Linked DNA regions of Homo sapiens. The protein of the gene in region 1 purifies or fractionates together with the protein of each later gene. This does not show direct contact. Each region holds a gene or a part of one and is shown on either strand. Other genes may lie near its edges. The genes, in order: NUDT13, PDCD6, MRRF and MCCC1.

Region 1 (3,569 bases):
CTCAAAAAAAATAAAATAAAATAAATTGTCTCGTGATTGACATATATGCAAGGGAGAATGGAGATTATTTGCTTCCTTTACTAGGTTGCAAATTCCTTGAGGGCATAAATCATATTTAATTAAATTAATTAATTAATTTACTTTCAAGATGCATTCTCACCCTGTTGCCCAGGCTGGAGTGCAGTAGCGCGACCTCAGCTCACTGCAACCTCCACCTCCCAGGTTCAAGCGATTCTCCTGCCTCAGCCTCCCAAATAGCTGGGACTACAGGCACCTGCCACCATGCCGAGCCAATTTTTGTATTTTTAGTTGAAATGAGGTTTCACTATCTTGGCCAGGCTGGTCTTGAACTCCTGACCTCGTGATCCGCCCACCTCAGCCTCCCAAAGTGCTGGGATTACAGGCATGAGCCATCGCACCCGGCCTTAATTTTTGTATTTTTAGTAGAGATGGAGTTTTGCCATGTTGGCCAGGCTGGTCTTGAACTCCTGACCTCAAGTGATCCGCCCACATCAGCCTCCCAAAGTGTTGGGATTACAGGCATGAGCCACCGTGCTCAGCCCTAAATCATATTTTACACATGTTTATGTAATCTAGATGATGCTGGACTAGACAAGTGCTTAATAAGTACTTGCTGATGAGCAGGTTGGATGAAGCAAAAGAAATATCACAGTATAAGGGAAGATGAGAACTTACTTCTGTCTGCCCTGGTTTCACAGTTGCATGGCAAGCAATCATGAGTGAGCCACTAGGGAAGGGCCAATGCTGGGATGCATAGTACTGCAGGCTTTCCACCTCCAATCCCACCTCTTCTGCAACTTCTCGGCGGATGGTCTCTTCCACACTTTCACCTACAAGCACTCAGATTAATTCAGGACAGCCCTGTAGGCTAGAAGGGTGATACAGACAGCCCATTTGAGAAAGGTGCACAACACTGGCTCCAAAGTTTCAATGAAATGCTCTTGGGAGTGTCCTAAAACTCTGAGTCATTCCAACAATAAGAATCAGGTCCAGAGCTGTGTGTTGAACCACAGTGCTTAAGTCTGCTAGGTCTAAAGTAAGTGTGACAGTAGGAGGGACTACTGCACTCAGCTTTCATAAAATTCCACTTTTCACCATTTGCAAATTTGACCCCAATAGACTAGAGAAAAAAACCAACCTGTAAATAAATACTGAATTCTAGCAAATGTTACGCATGCTGAAATAGGAAGAAGTGTACTAATATCTTCAATCTATGCATCAAAAAATAAGATAGATTAATGGATAGATGGACAGCTTTGTGATAAAGTAAGTGTAGTAAAAATTCATGGAATCTAGGGGTGTGCTCAGAGCAGGGGGCCTAAAGAATGGCTCCTCTGTTTATAACACACCCAACAGGAATCTGGGGTCAATGTGATGAGAGGCACAAAGCTTGTGGCCTCCCTACAAACAAATGCCTACATGTGAAGAGGAAAAAAAATTATAGAATCTGGGTAGTGGGTGTATGGGTGTTCACTGTATAATTCTTTCAACAATCTCCTATGTTTGAAAATTTGCTTAAAAAAATAGTGTGGCTCACACCTGTAATCCCAACACTTTGGGAGGTCAAGGCAGGTAGGTCACTTGAAGCCAGGAGTTCAGGACTGGCCTAGGCAACACGGCGAGACCCTGTCTCTACAAAAAATTTTAAAAATTAGCCGGGCATGGTAGCCTGTGCCTGTAGTCCTAGCTATTCAGGAGGCTGAGGTGGGAGGATTGCTTGAACCCAGAAGGTTGAGGCTGTAATGAGCCATGATTGCACCACTGCACTCCAGCCTGAGCAACAGGGTGAGACTCCCATCTCAAAAAAAAGGAAAGGAAAAAATTTTATATATATATATATATATATATATAAAATGCCAGAAAGCAGTTTTCTTGACATGATAGAAAAGAATGTGCTTGGGAATTCAAGCTCTATAGCAACAAGACAGAGAAGATTGTATTAGTAAGATTGTATATCTTCCAGTGTCACCTGTATATCCCCTAAACTCCTCACCTATATCACAAAAACCTGCCAAGGCAGAATACATTCCCTTGGGAAAGGAGCTTTGGCGGGCAAGCAGGCATCGGGTCCCATCTGACACCAGCGTGATCGCCACAGGAGCCATCTAGGAAAGGGGAATGGAAACTGAGATGCTGGCACTTTGGGCCCTGCCAATGAGCTAAAGCAGTGTATAATTAAGGAATTGCACAGGCTTCCTTCCCCAGGACAAAGCAGCGCACAGTCTTCTTGGATTACTGTCCTCTTACAGCAATAATTACCTGTGGATAATAGATTATATTATTGGAAGGGCACACACGCTTGCTGCCAGCCACGTTCTTCTTGGTGGGCTGCCCACTTCTGCTGCAGAACTGATGAGCATCATGCCAGCGGAGAAGAGCTTGAGCCTAGGAACACAATGATGGGCCTGGTGTCATTTGGAGAGAATGCGGGGCTCATCTTTAACAGCACTGGGCCTAGTGTCTGGAACAACTCACAGAAAAATGCCAATCTCTTTACAGCTCACGTAATTTAAATGGTTACTGTTTAAATTTCAGGACAAGTAAACTAACTGAACATATTCCTCTAGCATCAGAAATCTGAATAAAAGAAAGCATATTTTTAAATGTATTATTATTTAAAACATATGAAGTATATGAGGTAATAAAATGAACACCCATGTATTCACTAACCAGCTTAAAAATAAAACATTCCCAGTACAGTTGAACACCCCAAAATGTTCTTCTCCCTGGTAAAGTTGGAATTTTTTGCAACTAAAAAAATGTTTAGAGGTTTCTTTTTAAATTAAATGCACAATCAAAATACTTTAGCAAGTGAAATCTAAAGCTGTGAGGGCAAGTCATTAAAGCAATGTAAAGTAATTTCTCTTAGGGAAAACATGATACTGTATATGTCATGCTATGTGGGTCATTAAAAATGTTTATGAGGCTGACAGATCCTATTGCCATAGATCTGCATGTCTTTAGGAGACAATGATCTTGACAGTGGTTCTGCCAAAAACAAGGGCAGAAGAAGGAAGAATAAGCAATCTCCCTACAGCACATTGTCCTGCCAGTGTTTGTAGAAAGGACTATAATCTGCAAAAGAAGAAATCAAACGTCACTCTAGCCTTGTGTGTACACATGGATTTGCCCACACTTACTGCTCTACTAAATTTCCTACAGAATGAGAAATCAGAATCTACCGTGGACAGCAAGGAGGCATCCCTTGCATTGAGTTGAAAGAGTGCCTTTCTCAGCTCAATGAAAGACCCCTTGAGCTCTGTCTCCATTTCAGGTTTGTGTAAGGAGGCTAGAAAATTAGAAAAGATAATGAAATTAAACAATGACAAACTTTGCCTCAGGGCCTCTCTCCAGTCTATCCTGTTAAAATAGTGTTTCCCAAACTTGCCTCGTAAGATTCAGCTAGGTGTGGGGGGCGTGTGCCTGTAGTCCCAGCTACTCAGGAGACTGAGGCAGGAGGATGGCTTGAGGCCATTAGGAGTTCCAGGCTACATACAGTGCGCTATGATCTTACCTGTGAATAGCCACTGCACTCCAGTGAGACCCCA
Region 2 (3,569 bases), on another chromosome or scaffold:
CAGAGCTGACCCTCTGACTCTCCAGGGCCCACAGCACTGGTGGAGTCTTGGAACAGCCCTGTCAGGAAAACCTGCTTTAATTAGAAACAGACCCTCGCCTATGTCCTATTTGCTTTCAGTCTAACTCCAGGTCCAAATACAAAAGAATCTATAACTACCTTTATATGTAGTTGCAATATGGCTAAAAAACATAGAAAAATTCAGTGTGAATTACTGCTGCAGAGAAAATGATAAATCACGTGGTCTCTTTTCAAGAACAGAGGTTAATACAGGACTGCAATAAGACTACTCCTGGTTTGATCAGAAATATGTTACAATTAAATGAAAATCCACAGGATGAAAAATCATGTGAGAAACAGCATCGATGTTTCTTCCCAACAGTCCACAACCCTGTGTGCAACCAGTGGCTGTTTTTCACACAACCGTTCCACGACGTGCACCGTTCCACGACGTGTGTGGTGTGTGGACCAGGGGCTGTTTTTCATACGACCATTCCACGATGTGTGCAGTGTGTGTGGACGATGCTGTTGCGTGCAGGACCCACTGCGCACCACACACCAGCAGGGAAGGATGCTGGGTGAGCTGCACCCCAGGGTAAGGGCTCCGCAGAGGAGTGGCTCCCAGGCCATTCCTCTCCGGTGGGGAGGTAGCTCCCCATGTATCAACACCTTTTCTAGCACTAAAGGCTGAGCCCTGCCACTACTACACTTCCAAGTTTTCTCTCCCTCCATCAGTGTGACGTAGCAACATATGCACGACCAGCAGGGCACAGTCATCTGGAAAAGCCCCCAGCTACACCCACACTAGGACTCAGACACCTCACCACACACAGGCTCCGCAAGGAACTCAGGGAATCCTCACAAGACTAAAACACGTGCATGGATGGGAGGCGAGGGAATGAGCCCCAGGCCGCTCTGGGAAACCTCGAGACACAATGCCATGGTCCCTGTGAGGCAGAACTGAACCTGGGATTCCATATTAAAGAGGTCTGAAGGGGGCTGCACCTCCCAGCAAAGGGAACCTTCCAGAAATCAAGTCGGGTAGGGATGGAAACATGACTCTCCTGAACACCTGCCTCCCAGGCCTGCCTGCCCCTGGAGCTGCAGCTCCCACCTGGCTACGGGGGATGGAGACACAGCACGACTCTCCTGAACACCTGCCTGCGCCTGGAGCCTCAGCTCACACCCCGGCTACCGTCTGGGCATGGGGGTGCACACCTGTAATCCCCACTTTTTGGGAGGCTGAGGCAGGAGGATTGCGTGAGCCCAGGAATTCCAGACCAGGCCTGGGCAGCACAGGGACACCCTGTCTCTTAAAAGAAACAAACAAAAACCCAGCTGCCTATACAGCTGGGGAGACCCTGGACCCAAAGAAATGATGCAGACCCTCACATTAAGGCTACACATGAACCCACAAAACAAACAAAAATTACAGAAGCATCAAGGAAGTTGGTCACTCTGTGTGGGCTTGAGCAGGAAAAATATCTGGCTGTAGACCACCCTCCCAAGGACTTCAAACACAGTCAAGGAGCTCCATGTCACAAATATCTAGCGCTTTTCAAAAAAGCATGTTCTTAAAACTGAAGACTATCATATGAAATATTTGAATAAAGAATGGAATCACAAAAATAAATAAGCAATGTCTATCAAAAACACCCAGATAAGATGTGAAAGTAACTAATAATTTAGAAATTTTAAATATATGTCATCTTTAGAATTAGAAACTGAAAGGACAGGTTACACCGTACATTAAAAATAAACAGAATCAAGAATAGAGCAAACATACACGGAGAGATGTGAAAAGGTACAGAGACGGAGGGAGAGGGATGAAAGGGCCGACGCTCATCTAAGTGGAATTCCAGAAGGGAGCAAAGTGATACGGACCCACAGACAAAGGAAACACAAGCGGGTACCCAAGCGGGTCGGATACAAAGCAGCCCAGGTTGGTCCGTCTGCCGATACTTACATATGATCGACCTGACAGTCACTGGATTAAAGGGAGTCCACGTGCCTGAAAACAAACAACAACAGGAGTTAAAGTAAAAGGAAAATCTTTCTGGGACACTGAGTTTGTGATCTATACCTGGAGGCACCAGGAAAAGCAGTGGGGGCTCTAAGGTAGTGGTTTTCTAGACACTCCAGGTGACGTGTCGGCTGCCATGACTCCTGGGAGGGGGCCAAAGCACTGCCTGGTGGGTTCACACCCTGCTGTGTGTGGGAGTCCTTCGTGGCCTCCCAGACCTCCAAGGCCGTCCACAGTCATCGCGGCTGGACATGCACTCTTATTTAACAGATAACCAAGAAATGGTTCTGTATCATTTTACACACAGAATTTTTCAAGGATGCAGTCACCAGCTAAGTTGAGAAGTTCGCACTTAGTTTTGTTAGAGGACTTCACGAATTCCCATTTCAGAAAATCCATCATCAAGGCCACCACTGCCTGCAGACACCTGAACATAGCTTGGTCGCTGTGGCATTCACACTAATTCTACTGAAAGGTGCAAGTACCAGACCCCTTCCTTCCGTTCTCCCTCAGTAATCATCCTAAAGCACGGTGAAGACATCCATCACACCACACTTCAAACATTCCTGACAAATTACGGTCTGGGCTTTATATGATTTTCCTTGAAACTGAATAGGAAAGCTGTACTATCCTCAGACTCATCGTTGAATCTGATACCCTTGAGCGCTCACAACCATTTATCAACTCTGAGAATGAAGATTCACTGATGACCTTCGCACACAAGAACCTATCTTCAGAGTGATTTGTACCTTCAGTAATTTCCATACTCACTAAAAATGAACTAAAAAAATATTTTTAAGGTCAGGAGAGACCAGTGGCTCTCCTCATACCCCGTCTGTGTTAGACACACAGTTTTTTTTTTTTTTTATGCACAAAAATGCCACAGTCCTGGGCAGTACACAGAGACAGCCCCCTGATCTCAGAGAACAATGTCAGGCTCCTGGTGGAGCACGGGCGGTGGGGTCTGCTGGCATGGTCCCTTAGGCCTCTACGTGCCACCACTCTGGGCTCATGGGGCTCCTCCTAGTGCCATGCCCGCTCTCACCTGAAGTGCGTCCCCTCCTAAGACACACACACCCTCCCTCCAGCTCCTTCCTTTCCTTCCTCAGGGAGACTTCCACGGGGGTACCACATTCTCCCAGCCCAGAAGTTAAATCCATTTGCTCCGCCTGAGCACCTCCCAACTTCCCCTTGGGAAGATCCCGCCCTCCAGCAGTTATGCAGGGAAGCTGTGCTCTTCCCACAAAGGCAGGTGCACCTGAACCTGAGGCATACACACAGAGCAGCACTCAATGATCCGCCCTCCAGCAGTTATGCAGGGAAGCTGTGCTCTCCCCACAAAGGCAGGTGCACCTGAACCTGTGGCCCACACACACAGCACTCGATGACCCACCCTCCAGCAGTTATGCAGGGAAGCTGTGCTCTCCCCACAAAGGCAGGTGCACCTGAACCCGTGGCCCACACACACAGCAGCACTCGATGACCCACCCTCCAGCAGTTATGCGGGGAAGCTGTGCTCTTCCCACAAAGGCAGGTGCACCTGAACC
Region 3 (3,569 bases), on another chromosome or scaffold:
AATGCATCAAATCCTTTTCCCTCAATCTGTCCCCAGCGAGAATCTCCCTCAGCCTCATTCCTGCCCCTCATTTTCTCAGAGGTTAACATTTAACAAATTACACTCCCAACCTCTTTCCAGGCCCATCATCTTTTTAAGTTCAACAAGAGTGGAGCTTGCTGGCTAATTTTAAGTATCACATTTCTCCCTGAGCTCCTCTCAAACTGCTCTCTGGTTTCGGCTGCAGAATGTTAACAGGCCAGAAAACACAGGGGAGACAGAGCACTTTATCAGTTTCATACCTAAAATAATAAGCAAGTTTAAAATAAACAGTTGAGAGAGATTGAATGGCACGCTCTACTGTCAGCAAAGGCAGAAATGCCCCAGCCCAAAGGTTGACAAGTGACGGGAACAGTCTTCTAGTTTCACACTGGATCTCATCTCTGAACTCGGTAATGTTTCTGATAGTGTTTATAAGTGGAGCTGTATTTTTCACTTGGTTTTCTTAAGAGCGAAATATTTCTAGTTTTCTTATGAACTATCCTAATCAAGATGTGAGTAGAAGCAGCCCAAGCTCCCACAGGTACCTTAAGAGAGGGGTCCCAGGTTTGACTTTAGGATGATGACAATTTGCAAAAGCCTAATTTAACAGCAACTGGATTTTTCCTGCCTGCTTGCACCATCAGCTGACAACTCACTTCTCCATCACATCTGCAAACAGTTGGCCTAGACAGTTCTGACATTTCCCACTTAGAAAAGCCACTTTCAGGAAGTTATTAACCCAAACGGAATCTTCCTGGTCAAGCTCAGGGGTATAGAAATGCCTCACGTGGGCAGGTCTGTATTCATTTGGTTCCCAGTAAGGGATAAGAACTGCCAAACAGGACAAATTGGAAAAATCGGACCAAAGATGTCAGTTACTATGAGACTAAATACCTAGATGTGTTTATAGTACATTCATAATAAAAATCTCATTTTTCTGAGAGTCTAATTCCATGATAGCAAAGACAATACCTATTTTTGTTTACTACTATGCACTAGCACAATGCCTAGTTCCAAAGTAGACAAAAATTTGCAGCATGGATAAATAAATGTAGTGTTAACTATGCGCCAGGCACTATGCTAGAACCATAATACGTTACCTCATTTATTTTAACTACCACCCCAAAGCTGTAAGTTAAGAATCAAACAAGAAAACCGAGGACCAGAAAAGCAAAGTAACTGCCCATGGCCACCAGTTAGTAAATGGCAAAGCTGGGACTAAAACTCAACTCTGCCAAACCCATGCTCTTTCCATTACATCCCTCCCCAGAACATTGGTTCAGTCACTAACCTGGTGAGGTCCTTATATTGAGAGTCTTATTGAAATTATCCTTGAGAGCTTCTATCACAGACTTCATTTCTTCATTCACCTCTTCCAAGTTGATTATATCCTCAACCAAGGCAGCATTAATATTCACTCTGGTTTGGGACTGTCCTTTCCCTTTGGCTAAAAAGTGAACATTCAGTGAATAAAACAACAGCAGCATAAACAGAGCCAATAAGCAATTGGTGAAGAAGTACCTACTATGTACAGGGAAAAATGTCAAGTGTTAGAAAATTATAAAACATTATCGCTCCACTAAAAAAGAGCCTATATTAACTGAGTGTCAACTGTGCTAAACACCTTCTCAGATACTAGTGAGGGGGCACACTTTATAATCAGACACCCCAGGTTAGAAGTCTGGCTATAATGCATACTAGCTTTATGACCTTAGGCAAGTTATCTTTCTGAGTATCAAGTTCCCTACCTGTAAAAGAATAGTAACATCTATATTGCAAGGTTGCTACAAGGATACAAATTAAGTCATTCAAACACCTAAAAGAACACTATACACATGGCAGGGAATCCATAACTAAATTAATCCCTTACTTTTCAGAAAAGTAAACAGAAGATGAGAAAGGTAAAGCTATTTGCCTAATGTCACAGGTCAGGAAATGGAAAAGTCAAGATCTGGTTCCAGATCTGCCTAATTTTAAACCCATGAACTTTTCACTAGCCCATCTCCACAAAATCTAATTAGAGAGACAGGAAATACATTAATTCATTAAAAATGGACACTAAGACAAGGATATGCACACAATATCTGATGGCTGGTAGAGTACAGACAAAAGGAACAATAGTAGTTTACAGACATTAAACACTACCAATGGTAGAGACAATGGCTTATATTTTAGAAAATCAACAGCATTGGGAGCTGAATATAATTTCATTTTATGTCTAAATCATCGTAGTGATTTTTCATATACATTCTAGGTGTATACATAGATAATTTCTGTGAGTGATGCAAATATTCTTGCATTTCTTTTATAGGGAATGGGGAAGGAGAAAAACAATAAAATTTTAAACAATATTTACACTGTTTATTCATTAAACATTCAACAAATATTTATTGAGATTCATTAAATAAATTTTGTTGAACATCTACAGTGAACTCAATCCTGTACTATTTGGGTGGCATATTATAACTTGCAATGCAATTTCAAGTACATTCTCCTCCTTGCTATCCAAGATAGCTCTCTGAGGTAGGAAGAATAGTGATTAGTATTGTCCCCATGGTACAGATGAGAAATCTAAGGCACAAGCCATTTAAATGTTTCGTCCAAAGTAAACAACTGGTAAGCAACAGAGTGATTTTTAAAAACATTTATTTGCCCATGTTACCATTATGCTTTGAAACCAATGGCTTAGGTTTTTTTTCAGAACTGATAGAAGATGTGGGGCTGGGCGCAGTGGCTCATGCCTATAATCCCAGCACTTTGTGGGGCCGAGGCAGGCAGATCACGAGGTCAGGAGTTCAAGATCAGCCTGACCAAAATGGTGAAACTCCATCTCTACTAAAATTACAAAAATTAGCTGGGCGTGGTGGCGTGTGCCTGTAATCCCGGCTACTCGGGAGGCTGGGGCAGGAGAATCGCTTGAACCCGGGAGGTGGAGGTTGCAGTGAGCCGAGATCAGTGCCACTGCACTTCAGCCTGGGCGACAGATCAAAGAAAAAAAAAAAAGATGTGGATCTTCGGATTGAGAAACACAAGTTTCAAATAGGACAATAAAAGTAAATTCACACCTAGACATGTTGTGACTGCAGAAAACAAAGGACAAAGAGATCTTTATAAACGCCCAAGAGAAAAGACAAATTATCCATGAAGGATTAAAACTTAGAACACTTTCCAAGAGCAACAACAGAAGCCAGAAGCAACTGAAATAATATCTTCAACTTTGAACTTTTAAAACCAAATATGCACATTAATAATTTAAAGATATGCCTGTCAATATTGGAATGAATAGTAATATTTATGAATGAAATACTATGCAACCATGAGAAAGAATGAACACACACAAAAATTTAAATGAGTCTCACAAACATGATGTTGAACACAGAGGCCAGACACAAGAAAACAAAACTGTACAGTACAAAGGCCAGATATGAGAATATAAACTGAAAAGTAAAAAAAAAGAGAAAACGAATCCATGCTACTAGAAGTCAGAATAATAGTTATCTGCAAAGGGTCAAGGGTAGTACTTACTAGAAAGAAGCACAAAGGGGACT
Region 4 (3,569 bases), on another chromosome or scaffold:
AGCCTTGATCTCCTGGGCTCAAGCAATCCTCCCACCTCAGCCTCCCAAGATGCTGGACCCACAGGCACGTGCCACCATGCCTGGAATTTTTAAAAAATTTTGTAGAGACAGGGTCTCCCTGTGTTGCCCAGGCTGGTCTTAAACTTCTGGGCTCAAGTGATCCTCCCACCTTGGCCTCCCAAAGTGCTGGGATTACAGGTGTGAGCCACTGTGCCCAGGCCTGGCTGATTTAAAAAAAAGAATTTTGAGAGACAAGGTCTCACTAAGTTGCCCAGGCTGGTCTTGAATTCCTGGCCTCAAGCTATCCTCCTGCCTCAGTCTCCCAAAACACTGGTATTACAGGCATAGCCACATGCCTGGCCCAAACTATTTCAACTGACCTTCATACAGTTATATTTTAAAAGATATAAACTCATACCTCTTTATACCCATGTCTCTAATTGCAGATGGAGGAGGGCCTATAAAAATAATTCCTTCTTGCTTACAAAGTTCAGCAAATTCCATGTTTTCTGAGAGAAAACCGCATCCTGGATGGATAGCCTAGAAATGAGAAATAAAATAAAAAATTTACTCATCAGTGCTCAACTGGCAACACCTTAATGCAGGTGAAGCTGTCTTCCTCTGGGAGGCCTCTCCCTACACTGGTAATAGTATGGTCTCTATTAAACTCTGTTTCCAAAGAAATATCTGAAATATTCATATGAAAGCTCTGAAGGCTTACCTAAACCAGATGAATCTATATTTCTTTTTATTGTGATAATATATACATAGCAAAACACTGACCATTTTAGTTACTTGCAAGTATGTAATTCAGTGGCATTAAGTACACTCACAATGTTGGGCAACTGTCATCACCATCCATCCTCAGGATGTTTTAATCTCCAAACATAATTCTCCATTCCCTCCCTTTCCTTAGTCCCTAGTAACCAGGATTTTACTTTCTGTTTATGAATTTCTCTAGCCAAAGTACCTCATGTAAGTGGAAGCGTATAATAATTTGTCTGAGTTTGGCTTATTTCACCTAGCATAATGTTTTCAAGGTTCATTCATGTAACATGTATCAAAATTCCATTTGTTTTTAAGGTTGAATAATATCCAGTTTGTACACATTTTGTTTATCCATTAATCTCTTGATGGACATTGTGTTATTTCTACACATTGTGAATACTGCTGCTGTGAACAACAAGTATTGGTATACAAGTATCTGTTTTGAGTCCCTGCTTTAAATTCTTCTAGCTGTATACCAAAAGTGGAATTGCTGGATCATATGGTACAGAAGTTTCTATATACTTAAATTTAAAATAATATTGCAATTAGGGTAGAATGTCAAGAAGTAAAGGGCTTCAGAGTGGTAAGGGGAATTTGTCTATTCTGTCTCTGTGTAAAACTGGCCTAGAATTGAAATCATGGCATCCAAAAGCCCCAAACAGAACACTAGCTCAATAAATACCTCACTTATCTTCAGGTCATCAATGTCATCTTTCCAGAAAAAAAGCTAAGAAGCAAATGAAAGTCATGTATTAAAGTCTACAGGAGTGTCCCCTTATCCAAGATCCCTAGTGGATGCCTGAAACTATGAATACTACAGAACTGGACTGATACCAATTTGACCACGCTTCTGTTCATGTCTTCCAATCACAAATGTAATGCCTTTCCCATCTTAACTAAGTACTTGCCATGCCCTGTGGCCATAAGTTTTGCAGTTTGAGGTGCAACAGGAAAATGACATGAATTTGTTTTTCCTTCTTCACAATTTCACAGATAGAAACTTGGTCCTTACCAAGAACCAAGAAACCTCAACATACATATTTTTTTCTTTCCTTGAGAATTTTCACCTTTTCACTTAAAAGAAGCATTTCATGGCTTCTCTTTAGCATAAGTGAATTGCCACCATCATTGCTCTTGCATTTTGGGGCCATGATTTAAATAAAATAAGGGTGACTTGAACACAAGCATGGTGGTACCATGACAGTCAATTTGATAACCTAGATGGCTCCTGAGTGACTAACAGATGGGGAGTGGAGACAGCGTGGAGACACTGGACAAAGGGACGATTCACATCCTGGGAGGGACAAAGCAGACTGTGCAAGATCTCACTGTGTGACTCAGAATGGCGTGCAATTTGAAACTTATCAATTGTTGATTTCTGGAATTTTCCATTTAATATTTTCACACCATAGTAGACTGCAGGTAACTGAAACCACTCAAAGCAAAACCGTGGATAAAGGGGACAACTGTACGTGTACTTTCAGTGAAAAGGGCATCCCTCAGACTTCAGCCTAGTTACTTCCAGTGTACTCAGAATTTTAACAAACATACTTACTGGGATTTTAGCCCACAGAAGAGGAAATTCAGTAACTGAAGGACAGCAAGATTTCTAAAAGTAAACACGCTGACAGCAAAAAGGGAAGAAACAGAAGGAGGCAAAAGGCAGAGAAGACTTGGATGATTTAATGAGTGATGAAGCCACACCCTCTCCAACATCAGTAGCCCTGAGGGGATTTGTTCTTCTAAAATGTGAGCGAGTATTATAATTATGACCAAAACAATGTAAAAACACAAAGGTTCAGCCAATCCTGTTTCAAAATAGTTACACTCAAAGAACATTTCAAAATTAAAGGGGTAAGCTTCACATATCTGGGAAACTCATACGAATAGAAAAACCCACATCCTAGTGACAGGAAACAATGCAATGCCAGATACAGATAAAATGCTGGATACTCATATGTTGCAGCCAGTTTAGAGTTTTATATCTTTTAAACCAAAGTTCAATTTTATTTTATTAACTTTTATTTTAGGTTTGGGGTGCATGTGAAGATTACACAGGTGAATACATGTCACAGGGGTTTGTTGTACAGAGTTCGTCACCCAGGTATTAAGCCCAGTATTCAATAGTTATCTTTTCTGCTCCTCTCCCTCCCACCTTCCCCACTCAGGTAGACCCCAGTGTCTTTTGTTTCCTTCTTTGTGTTCTTAAGTTCTTATCATTCAGCTCCCACTTCTAAGTGAGAACATGCAGTATTTGGTTTTCTGTTCCTGTGGGAGTTTGCTAAGGATAATAGCTTCCAGCTCCATCCATGTTCCCGCAAAAGATGTGATCTTATGCTTTATTATGGCTGCATAGTATTCCGTGGTGTATATGTACCACCTTTTCTTCATCCAATCTGTCACTGATGGGCATTTAGGCTGATTCAATGACTTTGCTATTGTGAATGATGCAATGAACATACATGCACATGTGTCTTTATGGTAGAATAATTTATATTCCTCTGGGTATCAACCAGTAATGGGATTGCTGGGTTGAATGGCAGTTTTGCTTTTAGCTCTTTGAGGAATCACCCTGCTGCTTTCCACAATGGTTGAACTAATTTACACTCCTACCAACAGTGTATAAGCGTTCCCTTTTCTCCACAACCTCCTGACATCTGTTATTTTTTTGACTTCTTAGTAATAGCCATTCTGACTGGTGTGAGATGGTGTCTCATTGTGGTTTTGATTTGCGTTTCTCTAATGATCAGTGATATTGAGCTTTTTTTCATGTTTGTTGGTCACATGTATGTCTTCTTTTG

What was found.
Region 2: the proteins of NUDT13 (region 1) and PDCD6 fractionate together in Homo sapiens (co-fractionation; one large-scale study listed by BioGRID). This does not show direct contact.
Region 3: the proteins of NUDT13 (region 1) and MRRF purify together in Homo sapiens (affinity purification with mass spectrometry; one large-scale study listed by BioGRID and IntAct). This does not show direct contact.
Region 4: the proteins of NUDT13 (region 1) and MCCC1 purify together in Homo sapiens (affinity purification with mass spectrometry; one large-scale study listed by BioGRID and IntAct). This does not show direct contact.

The regions. Positions count from the first base shown.
Region 1 is NC_000010.11:73,123,955-73,127,523, reverse strand, and holds part of NUDT13 (NAD(P)H pyrophosphatase NUDT13, mitochondrial), read right to left. Parts: intron 3,311-3,569; coding exon 3,204-3,310; intron 2,407-3,203; coding exon 2,281-2,406; intron 2,127-2,280; coding exon 2,015-2,126; intron 1,445-2,014; exon of another isoform or gene 1,317-1,444; intron 890-1,316; coding exon of another isoform or gene 872-889; exon of another isoform or gene 852-871; coding exon 697-851; intron 1-696. UniProt on the Homo sapiens protein: NAD(P)H pyrophosphatase that hydrolyzes NADH into NMNH and AMP, and NADPH into NMNH and 2',5'-ADP. Has a marked preference for the reduced pyridine nucleotides.
Region 2 is NC_000005.10:302,618-306,186, reverse strand, and holds part of PDCD6 (programmed cell death protein 6), read right to left. Parts: intron 2,011-3,569; coding exon 1,966-2,010; intron 1-1,965. UniProt on the Homo sapiens protein: Calcium sensor that plays a key role in processes such as endoplasmic reticulum (ER)-Golgi vesicular transport, endosomal biogenesis or membrane repair.
Region 3 is NC_000009.12:122,278,342-122,281,910, reverse strand, and holds part of MRRF (ribosome-recycling factor, mitochondrial isoform 1 precursor), read right to left. Parts: intron 1,469-3,569; coding exon 1,313-1,468; intron 1-1,312. UniProt on the Homo sapiens protein: Responsible for the disassembly of ribosomes from messenger RNA at the termination of mitochondrial protein biosynthesis. Acts in collaboration with GFM2. Promotes mitochondrial ribosome recycling by dissolution of intersubunit contacts.
Region 4 is NC_000003.12:183,071,948-183,075,516, forward strand, and holds part of MCCC1 (methylcrotonoyl-CoA carboxylase subunit alpha, mitochondrial isoform 1 precursor), read right to left. Parts: intron 541-3,569; coding exon 419-540; intron 1-418.